Linked DNA regions of Homo sapiens: region 1 is linked to region 2. A link means that fine-mapping ties the variant in region 2 to the expression of a gene that starts in the linked region. Tissue or cell type: prefrontal cortex. Region 2 holds a variant in brackets; the other region holds the start of a gene. All regions are shown on one strand. Distances are between the middles of the regions.

Region 1 (9,794 bases), 27 kb before region 2:
TTTATTAGACAGTATGATACTGCCCAAAAGACAAAACAGTAAAATTACACTGAAGACAGTTGACTCATAATGAGGAATACATTTATCAAAAAGTAATAATTTTAATATATGCAAGAAGTTTGAAAATGATATTTAATTATCAGTTATAACTGGAAAGACTAAGATGTATTGATTTGATACAGCTTTTAAAAAATGAATTAGCGTTTCCCACCTCGATATTTTCTCTGAGCATGAAAATTTAAATAGCATATGACAATATGCCAATTCCAAGAAGTTCTTTAAAATATATCTCCAGGAAACTTGTTCAGTGTATTTCTTTAAAACACATCTCCATGATGTGAAAGCCACCTAAATGTGTATCACTCCACAGAATGCCCTAACAATTTAGTGGGATATTTATTTTTGAAGTGGATTTTTTTTCCAGTATGGCTGTGAGATATGTAATATATTGCTTAATCTCTCCAGCACCAAGTAAAATTCTCTGAAATAATAGGTTAAATATCTAGTGGAATCACATGTCTCACACATTTGCTAAAACCTAGTTGACATTAGCCAAACAAAAATGTCCCTTCTCTTAAGTTTAATGTCAGGGTTATTTTATTTTAATTCAAATTAACATTCTCCCATAATCCCAGGACTTTGGGAAGCTGAGGTAGGAAGTTATCTTGCGACCAGTAGTTTGAGACCTGCCTGGGCAACACAGGCCCCTATCTCAACAAAAAATGAAATAAAGAATTAGCAAGCATGGTGGTGTTCACCTGTAGCCCCACCTTCACAGAAGGCTTGAGCCCAGGATTTTGAGGCTGTAGTGAGCCATTATCATGTCACTACACTCCAGCCTGGGTAACAGAGTGAGACTCAGTCTCTTAAAAAATTAATATTTTTCTAACTGAACTCAATAAACATTGATGAACATAAAAGTATTATTTCTTCATTTAAAATAGACATTCAGAATATAAACCAGTATGTGCCACTCTGTATATTTTGATATTCCCTAACATGTTCTAAGTATGTTATGTTCAAAATTATACCAAAGTAACTAATATTGGCAAATTAGTCATATTTGTAGTAAGATATTTTTTAAGTCATTACTTTATTTTCAGGTTTGTTTTTTTTTTTTTTTTTGTCCAGAACTAGTCTTAAAAGAGAAAGGATTGAAAGAATGCCACTTAATTGTAGAATGCTTCAGGAAAATAAAATCTCTCTTCAATTAAATCTTTTGAAATAATCTATGCATAGCACTTTCCAAGCCAAGGCATGGGTTGTTTCGTTGCATCTTATGCTATGACAAAGTCCTATAATTAGCACATTGGTGTAATCTACCACTGTTTCATTAAAGCTGATTGCATAACTATTTGGGAAGTTAACATGGCTTCTTGAGTACTTGACCTGCCCTTTTTTTTTTTCTATGCTACAGCTGTTAGTAGGAAGTGAGCAAAGGCATTCATTGCTGAACAGTAGTAGAGAAATAATCCTGGTAAAGGTTATAATACAAGACAAAGATGGAGTTTCACTCTGTGCATCTCAGACCTTTCCATTTTTAATTGGTTTGGTTTTTTGATGAGACCTCAAATGACAGAACAAATATTTGACAGCTAAATTTTTACCAATTTAAAAAGTGAACTCATATTTATTTAAATTACATTTTTAATCATTTATCTTTTGAAAGTCTGATTTTTAAAAGTGAAATGCATTAAAGCAGTGCGTCCTTGAATTTAAGAGGTTCTGCAAGTTGTGCAGAAATGGTGAAATCCATTTAAATGGCTTGAGGTAGGGATAAGAGGTAAATAATAGTTTATTTTAAAAAGTAGATTAAGCACAATCATGTTATCAAGAGTAACTCTCTTCTGTGTCTTTGGCCACTGTTGAAGAACTGTGTACAATTATATATTTTACTCCTTAGCAACCCACCCCCAGCTATGGGACATGACACATCAGTCAGCATGGTCCTCTCAAGTTAGGGTAGTCGGATGATCAGAGAAAAATCCAGACTTGCATAGGAGCACCAATGCCATAAACCTTCATAAAAGCAGTGCTTCAGATCAAGAGGCAACTTTATAGATGTTCCCTACTACAACAGTCTTCCGATAGCTTTAATACTGAAGTAGTCGCTAACACACTCGTCTGAAAAGAGCATTTAGAAAAGAACAACAACACACACAAAAAAAACCTTGTTGAAAATTCTGCACAAGCAATTTACATCCTGACAGAAGAAGGATGGGGTTTATTCTCTTTCATAATTCCTCTGCTACACACTCGCAATACCCTGCACGTTAAGTATCAGGTTTTTCTTGCTAAAATTAAAGCGGTTTTCTATAGGAGACACCTTAGGTAAAATTGGCAATGGAGACCAAGTTTATTTCCATTATTTTTAGTTATTTGCACAATACATAAATACGAAAATAAACTTCTTGCATTTCGTTGTGGAGACTTTTTCATTTGAATATTTCATCCTTCCTAGAAGTTTCTGGGGTTGATGGGACCTTCATCCTAGGCCCTCTGTCCCTTAAACTATTCTTAGTATGATGCACCTCCCTGTAGCCCTCCCACCATCCCCAAAAAAAGAAAGAGTCAGAGCAGAAGTGGAAACCTTACTAATCTTGGTATTTCCATCTCTATATTCCCAGAAATTTCAGTGTTTAGGAATTAAAGGAAAAGACAGGAAAGAATGTGTTTTGGAGCAGGAGACAGGAACAGTAAGAAATGCACAAGATGTCACTAAACTGTCATAGTAAAAATAGTGTTAATAATTATAGATGTTTAGAAAAAGAAAAAAAATTACACCCCAAACAGAAATCAAACCCAACATCATGTACTATGGTGTATCAATTAAAATGAATGGGAGTTACATGCAAATACCTCAAATAAAATACCTCAAATAAAAAATGTAGAATACCTTTCCACTGATGATTTTTAGTTGTCAGGACAAGTGAGACCCAAACAGCAGACAGAATGGTCCCAGCATGCTTGTTGCCTTTTTTTGTTTGCACAGTGGCTGTCAGTTCCAGCCTTGCAGGTAGTGGAACCCAGCCGGAAGAAGGGGCGGGACCCAGCATTGCAGCCTGAACTGAGAGCAAATTTAAATTACTGAGCCTTTTTTTTCCTTTTTTTATTTTTCTACTCTGCGACAAACTGAAAAGATTCCAGCACGCTAATTTAACCACCCTGCTTCTTCTTTGCCTTTTTTTTTTTTTTTGATTTTTTTTTTTTTTCTCTCCCTGCTTCTAGGATAATTAAAAGAGAAACCTGTAAAAGGCAACATTCCTGTGAGCGAGTTGGTGCTGCAACGTGCTGGTAAGAAAACGAGTTTAATTTTTTTCATCTTTTTTTTTTTTTTTTTTTTTTTGCTTTTTCTTTTTTTAAAGAGCTGAAGGCTTTGTCTGTCTAATGCAGTCATAAGCGTGGCTTCCCTGCCGTGAGGGGTTAGCGTATAATGAAAAGGTGTAATAGCCTGATGTACGACCTTCGCGTCATACTTATAATGGTTAATAACAGCATTCCTGTCTACCCCGATGATGCTTCTCTCTGCAAATGGACTATTTGCCCAGTTGCAACAGGGCTAAGATTGTCGCACTATGACAATGAGTTGTTGATTGTTTGGAGTTGCGGTGTCCTGTCAGAAAGATTTCTTGACTTTCTCCAAGTTACTTCCTTCCAGGGATGTTACGGGTTTTAATAGGTACCTTGCAGACCATAACGAGTCTGCTGTTTACTCATCAAACAGGAAGTGCAATGATGAAACTTTTTTTTAAGGAATCCTAATTGTCTTAGACTTCCTTAGTTCAGATAATGAAACAGACTAAAGTGAGTGCTCAGTAAAGTCATTTTAATCCCTTTCATCTGTAACTAGTCAGGAGTTCATTAGCCAACTAAGAAGAACCTACATCATTTGCAGACCTTGTATTTGAGATGCTAACTTTGTTCCTCAAAAGGACAAATTTTTATTCAACCCAATTAAATTCAACAAGTATTTCTGTGTATACTCTGCCTGGAACGGCTGCTGAGAATGTGCTTGCCTGTTACTCTGTTGTGGGGGAATAACTGAAATTAGATAGTGTAAATTTTCAGCAACCAGATTTTCTTACTACCTTTAGCACTGACCAGATCACTTAAGACATTTCAGAATGTGTGACCGTTGGCTATAAGATAAAGTTCTCAAGGTTACATATCCTACAATCAACGAACTTCTGTTCTTTTTCTGCATGTAACTTTTGCTCATGTGAAAAATGCAACTCTGGCTACTATATTTTACATCACATCTTAATGTTATAAAGAAGAAAAAAACATAGACATCTCTTTTTTTGTACACTAAACATGTCATTTGAAAATATATCCATGTGTCAAACTTTGAGCTTATCCATATTTTAGCCTCAGAAGCAGGAAGACACACGGAGAGGTTTAGGCTTGTCAATGAGTCTGCTTGGATTTGGGTCAAGAAACTTAGGAACTACAATTTCTCTGTTTGTTTGGTTGTTTGTTTCCTTTAAAAGCACGTGTGAAACAGCAAGGAATACATTTTGCTTTCGCCCCATTGTTCTTTGTAAACTGGTGTAGTTTTTATTTTTTTATTTTTTGTCCTTTGGTTTTGAATAGATAACTAGAAATGTAATGGGGAGGTTGTCAAAAACAGAATGTAGTTACCAAATGTCCATTAAAACCTTTTTCTAAAAAAAAAAAAAAACTCCTATGGATTTTGAAGGTTGTATGCTATTTGCATCTTATAGAGAATGTGGCATTCCATACGCTGGTAACATTTGGTCTCGGGTCTCTATAGCTATTCTATCTAATTGTGTCGCTCTATATTTAACAGCTCTGAACCATGCCGCCCCTGGGTCCTCACCGGTGCCCCCAGAGCGCTTGAAATGTCTAAAAAGACCTTAGAACATTACAAAGTGTCAATTGTTAGAATAATTTCTGCCTCTTTACAACAAGAGAAAATGCTGTGGAGTTAATAGTTCATTTTTAAAGTCTGTTCTTATCCACCGGTAACTGTCTATTAGCAACATTTCAGTTATAATTGGAATAAATTGTTGCCCAGTAACAAGCGACTAACTCCTTAGCGACTTTCCATAGAATCAGTGACTAGAAATAGCTACAAAGAGCTAAACGCAAGTCAAACCACAGTACTTGTCTTTTTTTTTATTGTGGAAAAAAATTCATTTCTTTATAATTTTATCATTCTATTCTCAAATTTTCAAATTGAGGTGCCTCTTCTTTGTAATTTTCTAATTGACCAAAATCCCGTACGTGAAAAACAAAGGCCAATAGATCTTTGAAAATTTTTCCTTCTGGCTTAAAATAAGAAAGGATAAGCACAACCTCTCAGACTCTGAGTGTTAACAAGATTCTGAGCTAGCAACACCATTAAATGTGAAGAACTGCCATCATCTTTTGCAGAACGCAATGTAAAATTATGGGTTTCACTGTAGGACTCTGTCATTTGAACTAGTAATCAGTCCATAACACTATAGATTGCTGTAGTTAAAATGATGCTTTCCCCCATTAACAAAACATTGAATAACACTGAAATTATGTTAGTTAGATTTTACCCTATTTTTTCAATAGAGAGTCAGGAATAGCCCCAAATCCTTTTACCTAAGGATACGTAATATCAGTTTGTCTTTTCTTCTGCCCTCACTGAAGTGCTATGACATTACAGGCTCAAGAGAAAAATTTCTTAACAATAGTTCTGCATTTGCCATGAGCTCTTGCGGCATTTGGGAAGGATTTTCACCTTCTACTTGCACAGGTGTTGAAATAGAAAATACCTTCTGACGAGAATACACATTGTTATTTTACACACAGACATATGGACAAAAATATATATAATGCCAGAATAAACATTAAAGGCAACATGAAAGTATACGGATTGCTCCCTGAAAATACGACATTTGACAGTTGCTCAATTTATTATAAATGTTCACTGAGGATCAACTATGTGACAGGAAGTATATCAGAATCTTCAGGAAACAAGAAAAACGAAAAAGCCATGTCTTGGTCATCAGGGGAATTACAATGTAGTAAGAAATGCAGCAGGTAGACTAGAAAATGTAATTTGATTAATTAGTCTATGATGACCTTAGCATTGTATCAGGCTATTGGGATCAAGAAAAGTTGTAACTTTATTTCTGAGTGTCTGGAGCTGACATAATGTTTGCTTCTCTCATTTGCTTCAATTCTTCACCTATAGCCACACATGTTTTCTATTTCCTGTGTTTTTTGAAAAAATTCTTATGGATGTAAGTAGTCTTAACAGCTGTAATTTTTGTGTGTTTTTACTGTAAAATAAAAATGGGCAGGAAGCGCTGAATGGGGTGTCAGGAGGTATCAAGTCTCATTTCTCATCACCCACTGCCTTTGTCATTCATAATCTACTTAGTCCTCTATCCTCCTCATCTTTACAAAGAGGAAATGACCCCATCCAACACTATAATTCTTTTATTCCATCCTAGTGGAAGATGGGTAACTTGTAAGGAAAAGAGATGGTTATGGCGGGCTTGTCCACCTGTGGTTTAAACAAAATACAAGACAATTACCAGCTAACAAGCTCTAAGTCTTAACCTCTGTGTTCGTGTTGAATTGATGTGTGGTTATACCTGCCCCATGATTTTATACCTTCTGTTTTCTTCATTATCATGTTAATGCCCCCAAGACTGTAGAGGAAAATTGCAACAGAATAGTGAGTATATGTTGAGAATGCTGTTCTAGCATCTGTTCAAATGCTTCTTACATGTGATCCAAGAAACAAGAATGTCTTTCTCCTGAAACAACGTTGCATAATCTGATATTTCTATGTACCTTTTAAAGTACCGCTTGAGCAATCTGATGAGCTTTCATTGATTTATACACCTGTGAAGCCACAACAATCAAGCTGCAGAGAGTTTCCATTCGTACAAAAGTTTCTTGTGTCACTTTGACTCTTGCCTCCACACCTGGCCTTCAGACAGGCCTTCAGATTTGTATTCTGTCACTATAGATTAATTTACATTTTATAAAATGTCATATAAATGGAATTATGCAGTATGGATTTTGTGTCTGGCTTTTTCATTTTGCGTACTGACTTTCAGATTCATACATACTGTTGCATACATCAGTAGATTTTTTATTGCTGAGTAGTATTTCACTATATAAATAAGCAATAGTTTGTTCATCTGTTCACCTGTGGATGAACATTTGGGTACTTTCCATTTGGGAACTGTTATAAGTAAAGCTGTATGAATATTCATGTGCAAGCCTTAATGTAGGCATAGGTGTTTCTCTCAGGTAAACAGCTAGAATTGAAAAGGCTGGATCATATGGTAGAGATATGTTGAAATGTATAAGAAAAAACCCAGCAGTTTTCCAAAGTGGCTGTAACATTTGATACTTTCTCCCGCAATGTTGGAGAATTCCAGTTGCTGGGTATCTTTGCCAACATTTTGTGTATTGCCAGTCTTTTCAGTGTTAGCCATTCCAACGGGTATGTAGTATTAACTCGCTGTGGTTTTAATAAACCTTCCCTGAAATTGAATAATGTGGGGCATCTTTTCATGAACACATTGGCTTATGGTAAAGTATCTGTTCTAATATTTTGTCCAATTTTTATTGGGCTCCATGTGTCATCTTAATATTGAGTTGTAGGAGTTATTTTTTCTCCTGGATAGACATCTCTTTTCAGATGAGTGTATGGAATACATTTCCTCCCAGTATGTGACTTTCCTATTATTTTTAATGGTGTGTTTTCAAAGCACAATATACTTTCATTTGAATTAATCCAAATTACCAGTATACCACCAGTATACCAACATACCACAATATACCAATATACCACTTATAATATACTAGCATAAAAATTTATTTCACGGTTCATACTTTTTTGTGTGGACAAAGTGGAAATGCTAAGATTTTTCTCCTAAGTGCTTCTCTATAAATTTTATAATTTCAGTGTTCACACACAGTTATATCATGCATTTTGAGCTAATGTTTATGTTTAGTATGAAATAAAAACCAAGGGTCAATTTTTTTGTCATATGGAGAGCCAGTTGCTTCAGCACCATTACTAAAAAGACTATTCTTTACCCCCACTTAATTACCTTAGTTTATTTGTCAAAAATCACTTGACAGTAGGTGTGTTTGTCATTTTCTGGGATCTGTACCATGGATTTATACATTTATTCTTTCACTAGTTCCACATTGTATTGATTAGCTTTATAGTAAGTCTTGGAAAAAGATACTGTATATTCTCCAACTTTCTCTTTTTAAAAATTGCTTTGGCTCTTCTAAGTTCTCATTTTGATATAAATTTTAGAATTTGCTCATAAATATTTACCCCAGTAAAACTTCTGGTGAAATTTTTATTAGAATTGCATCGAATATAAATTCAACTTGTAAAATTGACATGTTAACTCTATTGAGTCCTCCATCCATAAACAATTTTTCTGTTGTTCCTCATTTATGTAGTTGTTCTTTAATTTCTTTAAGCAATGGATTGTAGTTTTTGGTACATAGGTATTTCACTATTGTTGTGAAATTTTTCCTAAATATTCAAGGGGACTTCAAGAAGGTCATGGAAAAACGGAATTGAAAGTTAAAAATAAAAAATGTAAACTTTATTTCTCAACATAAGCACCATCAAGGTCAAGAGACTTTTATAAGAAATGATACCAGCCACTTAGTTTATCTCTAAAGAACTGTGAATCCTGAGAATTTAACTGATGACAAGGCAACATGTTTTACACTATTAACTGAAGAAAAAATGGTGTCCTTTAAATAATTTTTAGGATTAGAAAACAAAAAGGCAGAAAGAGACAAATCAGGAATGCAAGGCAGATGCCTAATGACTTTCCACTGAAACTCTTGCAAAATTGTCCTTGTTTGAGAGGAATGAGCAGGAGCATTGTTTTGGTGAAGGACTCTATGATAAAGCTTTGGCGTTCTCTAAACACTCTTATACAATAAACAGATACTATCTTTCTTTGGCCCTCCACAAAGTCAACAAGCAAAATGGCTTGAGCATCCCCATAAAACTGTTGCCATGACCTTTGCTCTTGAGTGGTCTGCTTTTGCTGTAATTGGACCACTTTCACCTCCTGGTAGCCGTTGCTTTGGTTGTACTTTGTCTTCACGATCATACTGGTAAAGCCATGTTCCATCTCCTGTTACAATTCCTCAAAGAAATGCTTCAGAATCTTCATCCTACTTGTTTAAAAATTCTATTGAAAGCACTGCTGTTGATTGCTGTTGATCTGGATACAATGGTTTTGGCACCCATTGAGTGGAAAGTTTGCTCAACTTTAATTTCTTAGTCAGAATTGTGTAAGGTGAACCATTCGAGATGTCTATGGTGTTGGTTATTGCTCCTGCTGTGAATTGTTGGGCCTCTTCAACTAGGGCGTGAACAAGAAAAATGTTTTCTTCACAATTTGATGTGGACCATCTGCTGCTGTGGGTTTCATCCTCAACACTGTTCTCATCCCTCCTTTAAACAAGTTATCCATTTGTAAATTGTGAGTTTATGTGGGTAACTATCCCCATAAACTTTACATAAAGCATCAGTGATCTCATTCTTCCACCCAAGCTTCATTCTAAATTTGATGTTTGTTCTTTCTTCAGTTTTCATGGAATTCATGTTGCTCTAGTAGGGGCTCTTTTCAAACTCATCTTGTATCCTTTGTATGCCTCAAACTAGATCCTCTTCAGACGTTTTATAAAAAGTTAGTATGAACTTATTACAGTGCAAAAAAAATGGAAATCCATGCATAATGTTTTCATAATATGCATTTTTCATGAACACTTTGAAGACCCCTTGCATAACG
Region 2 (9,651 bases):
ATTCATCAAAGTTTGTGATCAGAAACTTTTACATTCTATACTCAGCAGTCATGTCAAGAAAGACCATTTTCCAATGAGTTAATTGCATGCATCAGAGCATGGAGTAGAATTAGAATCATGGAAACATAGAATAATGGCATTCAGATATTGAAGAAATGCTACAGCCTCTCCAGTAGTATGTTCTTTATTCTCCCGGAAATGTCAATGAGGCTCCAAGAGCCTGTGGTAGAGGTGGAAATGGTGGTCTTCATTCTCAAGCTTCTAAATCTAGACTGGAAAAAGCACTAAGGAAAACAATCAACAGATAATACAAACACCAGTAAAGAACTCCAACCTTTTCCTTTTCTCACTGGTTAATTAAACCCACACAGGAATGCAAGTGCACATAGAAAGGCTTAGAAACTGGCCCCATAATGATTTTAATACCATGATTTAATTTGTGATCTAGAGAGAGCAACTGCTAAACATCAGAGCTCAAATGAGTCTTCTCTAATAAATTGCATTTTTTGTCTTCATACAAAAGTAACTTTTACATTTTACACCATTGCATGCTATTTACTATTCATTATACAGCAGGTTGAGTATTCCGTATCTCAAAAGCTTGGGACCCAATGTGTTTCAGATTTTTGGCCTTTTATTATGGGGAGAGTTTTGTCATATTTGCATTATACTTACCTGATTGAGCACTCCAAACCTGAAAATCTGAAATCTGAAAAGCTCCAATGGGCATTTCCTTTGAGCGTCATGTCAGTGGTGATCAAAACGTTTTGAACTGTGGAGCATTTTGGATTTTCAGATTTAGAATGCTCAACCTATATTGGATTTTGAAAAGTAATCTAGATAAACATTCTTGGGTTTGTTGTCCTGGAGTTTGTACCCTAACTTAGGAAGCCATTGACATGTGTTAAAAGCAGAAGGATCTAATGATGATGGAGAAGACTCAGTCCACTAAAGGTCAGGAAAGGCAAAAAGGGAGCAGAGAGGAATTACTATAAAAAGCTCAAAGCAGCAATTTGACATTTATCTTCCTATCCCATCTCTTCATTCCCCTAGTATAAAATTAAATTTCCCTGTCCATCGTATATGCCTAGGGGTGTGTTTCACTTGCATAGAGAATGTAGAAGCATTTTATGCTTAAAGGTATCAGGACAAGTAGACATGTTTCAGAATAGACATCTTGCTGGCTTCCTATGATTTCTGTGATGGCTCTCAGCAAATGGGGATGCTGCAATGTCTTCTTTTGTCCTTTCAAGACAGCTCTTCTTGGATCGTGTATTCTACTTTGTTACTATTATTATTAGATATTAGTTGCCAATGTTTTACTTATAGCACAGTTGTAAAATTTAAATTGTAGAATGGCCAAGTGGCCACGTCAGAGGTCAGAGCAGCATGAAGGCTGGGAGGTTATTTACAATCAAAAGCTTCCCTCTCTTAAGTTACATCTCAGCCATTTACAAAGCCAAACAGCAGCCTGGTTGATTTTGTCTTGCATGGATTGGACTGGTTCTAAAGCTTTGTACATTAAATCCCAGGAATTTTAAATCAAACACACTACAGTATGTTTTTCTGCATTATTAACTGTGGATAGTTTTACCCTGGCTTTTTCATGACGTCCATGACCCCATCCTTCCATTGGGTATTACAATATCGCCTGTGAAAAGAAAAAAATGCTTTGACTCTTTCTTCACCTTTGGAAGTTTCATAACCAAAACCTTATACTTTGATGCATATTTGAGAAGATGTTGAAATTATACTAGACAATTTAACTGGTAAATTCCAGTGGAATTGTTAAGAAATAATATATCCACATTTATACCAAATTAATGCATCACGATTAAAGGTCTTAAAATGAATACCAAATGAATTAGTAATGGTGGTCTTTGTGCTTAACCCTTTAAATTGTATAAAAATATATCTGTATCAAATAGTTGAACATAAGAATGAGAAATTGAAGTTAGTAGTATTTGTAATCCAAAGATTGCAAATGTTATTAGGGTTCTTTTGTTTAATAATGCATAATCATTACATAATCATTATGTGATCATTACATGATTGTTACATAAAAATGTAACAGTGAAAGCCAATATATTATTAATGGAATGAGCTAATTTCAACAGTTCATGAGAAAACAAAAGTCCCCAAAGTGAAAATAAACTTGTCATGTTCTATAACCATAAAACATTAATTTTGATAAATCAAATGTAACTAACTTGATTTATAATTTATTTTGAAGTATTAGTTAAGGATATCCTTATTATATTGCCTTTTCAATGCAATCTAATGGAGTAGTAATCCCAATCCTTATTTGGAAATCAATATAGCGATGAAAACAAACGACTGAACTAGTGAAAGAGTTGAAAACATGAGTCAGACAAATCAAACTTCAAATTCTAGGAGAGCTACTTGTTCTGTGACCTCATCAGATTATTTAATTTCCCTATGTGTCAGTTTCCTCATCTGCAACAAAGAAGCTGGAAATACTTGCCTGATAGACTTGTGTTCATGGACAGAAGAGGTGATTTGTGGAGAATGCTTAGCATACCTGGTACCTAGCTGTATTGAATCTTTATTCAGTATTAGCTATAACTTATAAGCTACAAAAACACTTCATGTGTATTTGCTCACTTAATCATGTATTTTACTAATATCTTCCTCATTTTATAGACAAGAAACTAATGCACAAGGAGATTAATTGCTCAAGAAATGGCAGGTATTATTATTACCATATTTCTACACTTTTATTCTCTTTTCTACTCTTTCTCAACAGAGATTTGTTTGTATAATGATGGTATTAAGAAACATAACAGGTATAGCCTTAAAAACTGATAACATTAATTTGACATAGCAAATTAACGTAGATGTTAAACTGAAGTACATTCATTATCAAATCTTTCCATTCTTTTCCTTCAAGGTTTGAAAAACCGTATAACCAATGCAAGAAGGAGCTTGGGATCAAAATCCTGACTCCAAAATCCCCAACAGAGACACAAAGAACAACATGTCTGAACACCCTCCTCTACTGAAAGTGGCAAAATTTAGAGTAGGGAATGGTGATAGTGGCCAGCTTAATTTCCTCCAAGCAAGGCTATGGAGAATCTTCCATTAAATATCAATGTAATTTCAGCGAATGCGGTTCTGATACACATCTCAAACACCCAGCCCTGTAAAGTGCTGTCAAGAAGCTCTAGACATCTCACTGATGAACATTTTCACACCAACTTCTTCACCAAAAAAAAACTTCCCATAACCTACACCCTACAGAACTTAATACTGAAGGATAATAATGACTCAACCTAACAAAAATGAAACCTCACTTCTCTAAAGGATTTTTCTTAGAGAGTCCAGATATGTTAGTCCTGTCGTCACCTTCATCCAGAAGGACAAACAGCCCTGGGATTTCCAAATTGTAACTGGAACAGTGCTGGTACATTTGTAGCATAATGAGAGTCTTCATCACTGATAATTTTAAAACTAGACTACATTTTTCAGTGTCAGCTCCGTCTAGTACTGATTGTTTTGGCAGTGTCCGATCATATTGTATTTTTCATGTTTCTTCATTTCTTAGTGTTATTTAATCATTTCAATTAGCTCTCCCATTTGTTCACATAACTCAGTGAGTATACGGTGTATATTAGAAATGAATTCAATTTTGATTCTTATATGTCAGTCAAAAATAGCAACTGCAACTACAGATGATTGCTTAGGCATGAGAGACCTATACTTTGGGGCAATGCTTTGGATTTTTAATATTCTGGAGCAATTTTATAAAGTAGTCCATTAATTATTTGAGAGTGATGTGTGCTAATATATCCTGTGTGGCCTATCCTTAAAACAAAACGTGACGAAAATCAGCAAAATGGTAAGATTTCAGGTGGAGTTGACAATTTCAAGCAAACAACCTCATGAACTCTAGAATTCCAGAAAAATAACTTTTCCATTCACATTTTTAAATTAAGAATCTATGTGAGTACAGGTTTGGGGGGAGGGTGGGTGGATTTCTATGCATCATGCAGAAGGAACACATATTTGTGTAACTTACAGAGATTCAGATGTCAGAAGGAAAGATGCAGAGTACTTTATGGCATGACTAACATAAACCTTTGTTATTTATCTGAAACATCACATTTGATTATTCTTCCAGTAAAATTCTCTGGAATGTCATGGGGGAAAAAATCACTCCTATCATGTCATAAACTAATGACAACTAAAATACCATTTGTAACAGTAACAGAACTCTTTAGGCTTGCCTAAATATCAGATTTAGCCTAAATACCAGATTTAGGCAAATTTTGCCTAAATTAGAAACAATCCTATTATTCGAAGAGATAGGAAATGAAAAACTACAGTTGGAAATTTGGTTTTAAGGCTTGCAAAATTGTCATGAGCAGAAATCACTGTTTTCCTTTATCACATGGCATCTGCCAAGTCTGCCTAATGTGATTCTGTGGAAAATGCCTTTGTCCAGGAATGTCTTATTATGGTTACTTTTTTGGACTTCATTCAGCCAAATGCACTAAAGGATATTCACTGCAGAGTCAAACCTGTCTGTGATGATTTTGGAGGAAAAGGGGTATTTTTAAAGAGGCAAAAGTGCCCTCTCTGTCATCCCAGAGATTATCATTTATAATCTAATCTATCTGGTTGGGGGGGGGTGGAGCATGTGCACAATAGGCTGGAAATTATTCACAGATATTAATGTAAACACAGGTACACACACATTACATAAAATAAAGAAGAGCAGAAAAAAGTGAAGAACATAGGGATATGAGGATAGGTTACAAATGAGCATAAGCCCCTAGACTGGGAGTGGTCATTTCTTTCCCCATGTCTAAACCCCGCTAAGTAAACAGCCTTCTTCCCACATGAATACCAAGATAAAAAAGGTTGACCCAAATTGCCCAAGGGAGTTAATAATGGCTACTTGGGATTAAAGACAAGCTTCTATACAAATGGAAGAGTTTTACAGCCAGAGATATTTCACCTCCAAAAGATGTCAAACTACAAATGAGAAGGTCACATAAAAACAGCATTAGAGGAGCAAATGGTATGAAGTTTTCACTTAATTGGTTATTGTTTCCCAGTGACTATTGTAAGAAAAACCACTACTATATAAATGTCTGTAGGGAATGGACTAAGGAAAACTTAAATCTGATCGCAGCTAGAAAACCACTGATTCCTCCTCCTCTGAACCAGCTTAGCTCCCTCAAGGTCAAAGTTAGAGGAACTTACTTGGCAAAGAGGTTTCCCTAGCAAAGCACACAAATGAGTCTAGGTACTTCAATCCAGCCCCTTTCACTGACATTAAAATCTATTCAATATATTTTTTTCAGTGTGTTTCAAAAACTTCATCCAGACACACTGAATAGATGCAGAATTGTCTTGCACAGAAATTATACTTGTTTGCATAGCATATCCATTCTAAAATATGACTAAATGAGGTTTCCTGCAGTATGTGCACTAGAAATAGTTTTGAATTCATTTGGTGCTCTTTGCCTCTTGCTCTTTGGTATCTTCAGGAAGATAATCTTCATTCTAATTGTTCTTACAAACATACGCTGGCAGCCCTGTGTTTTCCTAAATATGGGTGGCTCCTGGACTGTATAGCTAATCTTAGGGTTTTCTCAGCTCAACTGCATGAAGCCCATTGTTACAAACTGTGGGTATTAATTTTCTTACTTTCATGATGGAGCATTCATGAATTCTTTTAGAATGTGAATTCCTATCTCTAATCTCTGAAACAAAAAGTTTGTGTTGCATTCAAACCCAAAGCCAGTGAAATCTTTGTGCTCAGTTAAATAGTCAATTCAGTTAAGCCACATTGACAAAAGTGGTTCATCTAGCTGGTGCCAGTAACCAGCTAGTTGTCTATGTCTTTCTTGTCCTGACTTTCTCCACCACGTCTAAAGAACATCTTTTTAACTGCATTTGTTGTTACATACAAGCCCAAATGATCGTCTTTTCATAAACATGATCTTTTCTTATACATGAGATCCTTTTTTGCCAGGTCTTTTTTCCTTTCTTCTTGAATGCCCCATCCCTCTCTTTCCCACTTTCCCATTTTCTTACCCCTCTTCCTCCCGTCCTCTCACTTCTTGTGCTATTCCATTCTCCATCCCTTCCCAGTTAACTCAGTAATTTAGGATTTATTCTATTTTTAATTTTCTTTCATGTCAGAGACTAGTTATTGGTGATGCCAGATCACCAACATCATTAAGCACTTGACTGTACTTCTCTGAAAATCTCTGCAGTTCATCCTCTGTCCTCTTCCACAACAGACAGCCTCTGATCACATCTCCATCTCTAATCCGTTTGCACAACAGCTCAAATCCAGCCTTGCCCCTCTTTTCCATTCTCCTCAGAGCAGGAAATGAGTTCTCTAAACCAAGCTGATTAGTCTGTCTCTCCAGGATAGCAATAGGAGATATACCTAATGTAAATGATGAGTTAATGGGTGCAGCACACCAACATGGCACATAGATATATATGTAACAAACCTGCACGTTGTGCACATGTACCCTAGAACTTAAAGTATAATA[A/AAT]ATATATATATATGCAAGCTGCACTTGGAAAGCAGACAAAAGTATGGCGGTTCTTCCAAAAAAATAAACCATGGAACTACCATATGATCTAGCAGTTTCACTTCTGAGTACATAGCCAAAGGAATTGAAAGCAAGAAACTGAAGGGAGATTTGTCCACCCACGTTTACAGCAGCATTATTCACAATAACAAAAAGGTGGAAGTAACCCAAGTGACCACCATAAACAAAAAGTGACATATAAATACAATGAAGTATCAGTTACTGAAATGGTTTGGCTGTGTCCCCACCCAAATTTCATCTTGAATTGTAGCTCCCATAATTCCCACATGTTGTGGGAAGGACCTGGTTGGAGATGACTGAATCATGGGGGCAGTTTCCCCCATACTGTTCTCATGGTAGTGAATAAGTCTCATGAGAGCTGATGGTTTGATAAGGGGAAATCCCTTTCACTTGGTTCTCATTCTCTCTCTTGCCTGCCACCGTGTAGTAAGACGTGCCTTTCACCTCCTGCCGTGATTGTGAGGCCTCCCCACCCATGTGGGACTGTGAGTCCATGAAATCTGTTTTTCTTTACAAATTAGCCAGTCTCAGGTATGTCTTTATTAGCAGCATGAGAACAAACTGATACGGTCACCCTCTAAAGGAAGGACATTCTGACACATGTTACAACATGGATGAACCTTGAGGACATTATGCTAAGTGGAATAAGCCAATTACAAAATAACAAATACTGTACGATTTTTCTTAAATGAGGCACTAGAGTAGTCAAATTCACAGAAACAGAAAAGTAGAATGGTGATTGCCAGGGTCTGGGGAGAGGGGGCATGGATGGCTATGGGCGAATAGGTGCAGAGTTTCAGTTTTGCAAGATGGAAAAAGTTCTGGAGATGCATGGTGGAGACGGTTCCACAAAGGTATTAATGTACTTCATGCCACTAAACTGTACACCTAAAAATGGTCAAAATGGTAAATTTTATATATACTTTACCAAAAAAAAATAAGTTTCACAGCCTTTAGCAAAAGCCCAAATTCTTTTTTTGTTTGTTTGGATTTTGGGCGTTTTTTTTTTGTTTGTTTCTTTTTTTCTTGAGATGGAGTCTCACTCTGTTGCCCAGGCTGGAGTGCAGTGGCATGATCTAGGCTCACTGCAGCCTCCGCCTCCCAGATTCAAGCAATTCTCCCACCTCAGCCTCCTGAGTAGCTGGGATTACAGGTGCCTGACACTACATACAGCTAATTTTTGTATGTTTTGTAGAGAGAGGGTTTCACCACGTTGGCCAGGCTGGTCTCAAACTCCCGACCTCAAGTGATCCACCCGCCTCGGCCTCCCAAAGTGCTGGGATTACAGGCCTGAGCCACCGTGCCCAGCTGCAAAAGCCCAAACTGTTTAACAAGCGGTAGGCTGCTCTGTGCCCATCCCTTTGAGTCTGGATCATAATGTTGTTCTCTGCCTAGAAAGTACCATTTTGCCAACCTGCCTCTAACCTTCCCCTGACCATCCAAAGCAGAAGATGTGCTGTCTCCCCGGTGACCTCATGGTTCTTTGTTCTCAGGGGCCCTGAAGTGTTTCCAGGGTAAAATCTCTGAGAAGTTTACACTAATGTCTCTCCCAAGAGAGGCTGACTGCCTCCAAAGCACAGCAGTCTTTGCCTGGCACGGAATGAATGCTTCACAAACAGTGAATTAATGAATACATTTCAGCCTGAACCATGTAGACCACGCTGCAGGAATCACTCTCTCTCCAGTTTATGATGTTTCCTTTCAAAGGAAGGGATGAAAAGGTAGCAGCCTCAAGATCAATGGAGCAGGGTTTTGAAATACTGGAATTCAGAATGTTTTCCTGTAAAGTTGAATTTCTAATAACACATGGACATTTTCTTTTAGTAGGCTTTGTTACTGAATGGTAGAATATGAAGGGTAACTCAACATCTTTGACTATTCCCACTCAGAGAAATGGGCATTCTGAGAAATAGCAGAGCGCATTACAAGTTCTCTTAATACTGTAGCCAGTTGCTTTCCAATAAATGGTGTTTTACATACGGGAAGAACAAGACATAGAAAAACTGATTGGTTTGTTCTAATTAACAAAAAGGAAAGCAATAAATATATGATAAGGAGATTTGACATTTTCTTCCTCAGATCATTTTTTTATACACATGTTAGACACCCTCAGCATAATCTTCTTCAGTGAAGCTCTTCTCTTAAACCAATCACAGAGGGTTTTTTGAGCATCTGTTCTGTGTTCATCATTGTACCTGATCTTAGAGTTTCTCATCTAAATGCCATATTCACTATCAAAGGCCTCTATAAAAAATAATATGATTAGACTCTGGGATTTGATGTCTCAGATAAAAATTAATATGAATCTACATACAACAAAAGGTCCAAATTAAGCTAAATGACAGTAGAGAAAATCAAGCTAGGGTGGATTGGGATACCACTGCTTGGGCTATTTTAAGTTAATATTAGCCTATAAGCAATTAAAGACTGAATTGAAAGTCCACTGTGTCCCATCAAAAATTTACCTCTTTGTGGCCAGGTGCAATGGTTCATGCCTGCAATCCCAGCACTTTGGGAGGCCGAGGCGGGCAGATCATGAGGTCAGGAGATCGAGACCATCCTGGCTAACATGGTGAAACCCCGTCTCTACTAAAAAAAAAATGCAAAAAATTAGCCAGGCATGGTGGCGGGCGCCTGTAGTCCCAGCTACTCGGGAGGCTGAGGCAGGAGAATGGCGTGACCAGAAGGCGGATGTTGCAGTGAGCTGAGATGGTGCCACTGCACTTCAGCCTGGGCGACAGAGCGAGACTCTATCTCAAAAAAAATTTACCTCTTTGTAAACAAGAACATCAAAAAGAGTTCATATTATGTATGGAACATTAAACAGCTGTGAGTCATATCTTTGAAGAGTTCTGTGGCCTTACCATGATGTATGTGGACAGAAGAATGGCTGTTTGGGTGTTTCCACCCAATATTTAGACATTGCCCCTTTACTAGGAACTAGTGGAGAACTTAAGGTTACTAAAGAAAACTCATGTAGAGGACCTCAAGGGTGCCTTAAACATCATCCACACTTTCATCCCTGTCCTCTCTACCTGAACAGCCACAGGGTCCG

Alleles and levels. Alleles are on the strand shown, and positions count from the first base shown. SD is a standard deviation of normalised expression in the study named.
For the expression in prefrontal cortex of the gene that starts at base 3,057 in region 1, A is the high allele of the variant in region 2 and AAT is the other (small effect, 0.22 SD a copy in CommonMind).

Evidence for each region. PIP is the estimated chance that this variant, and not a neighbour inherited with it, causes the effect. A credible set is the group of variants that fine-mapping cannot tell apart.
Region 1: it holds the start of CELF2-DT, and the variant in region 2 is the best candidate, but not a certain one, in a credible set for the expression of CELF2-DT in prefrontal cortex (CommonMind, PIP 0.71).

What each region holds. Positions count from the first base shown.
Region 1 is chr10:10,459,293-10,469,086 of GRCh38, forward strand. CELF2-DT (CELF2 divergent transript) reads right to left here and starts at 3,057. Exons shown (of 4, transcript NR_120637.1): 1 at 2,897-3,057. It also overlaps a transcript of CELF2 not described here.
Region 2 is chr10:10,485,926-10,495,576 of GRCh38, forward strand. It overlaps a transcript of CELF2 not described here. Among named protein-coding and RNA genes, the nearest start is that of CELF2-DT, 28 kb to the left of the region's middle. The variant A/AAT (reference allele first, on the strand shown) is at 6,537.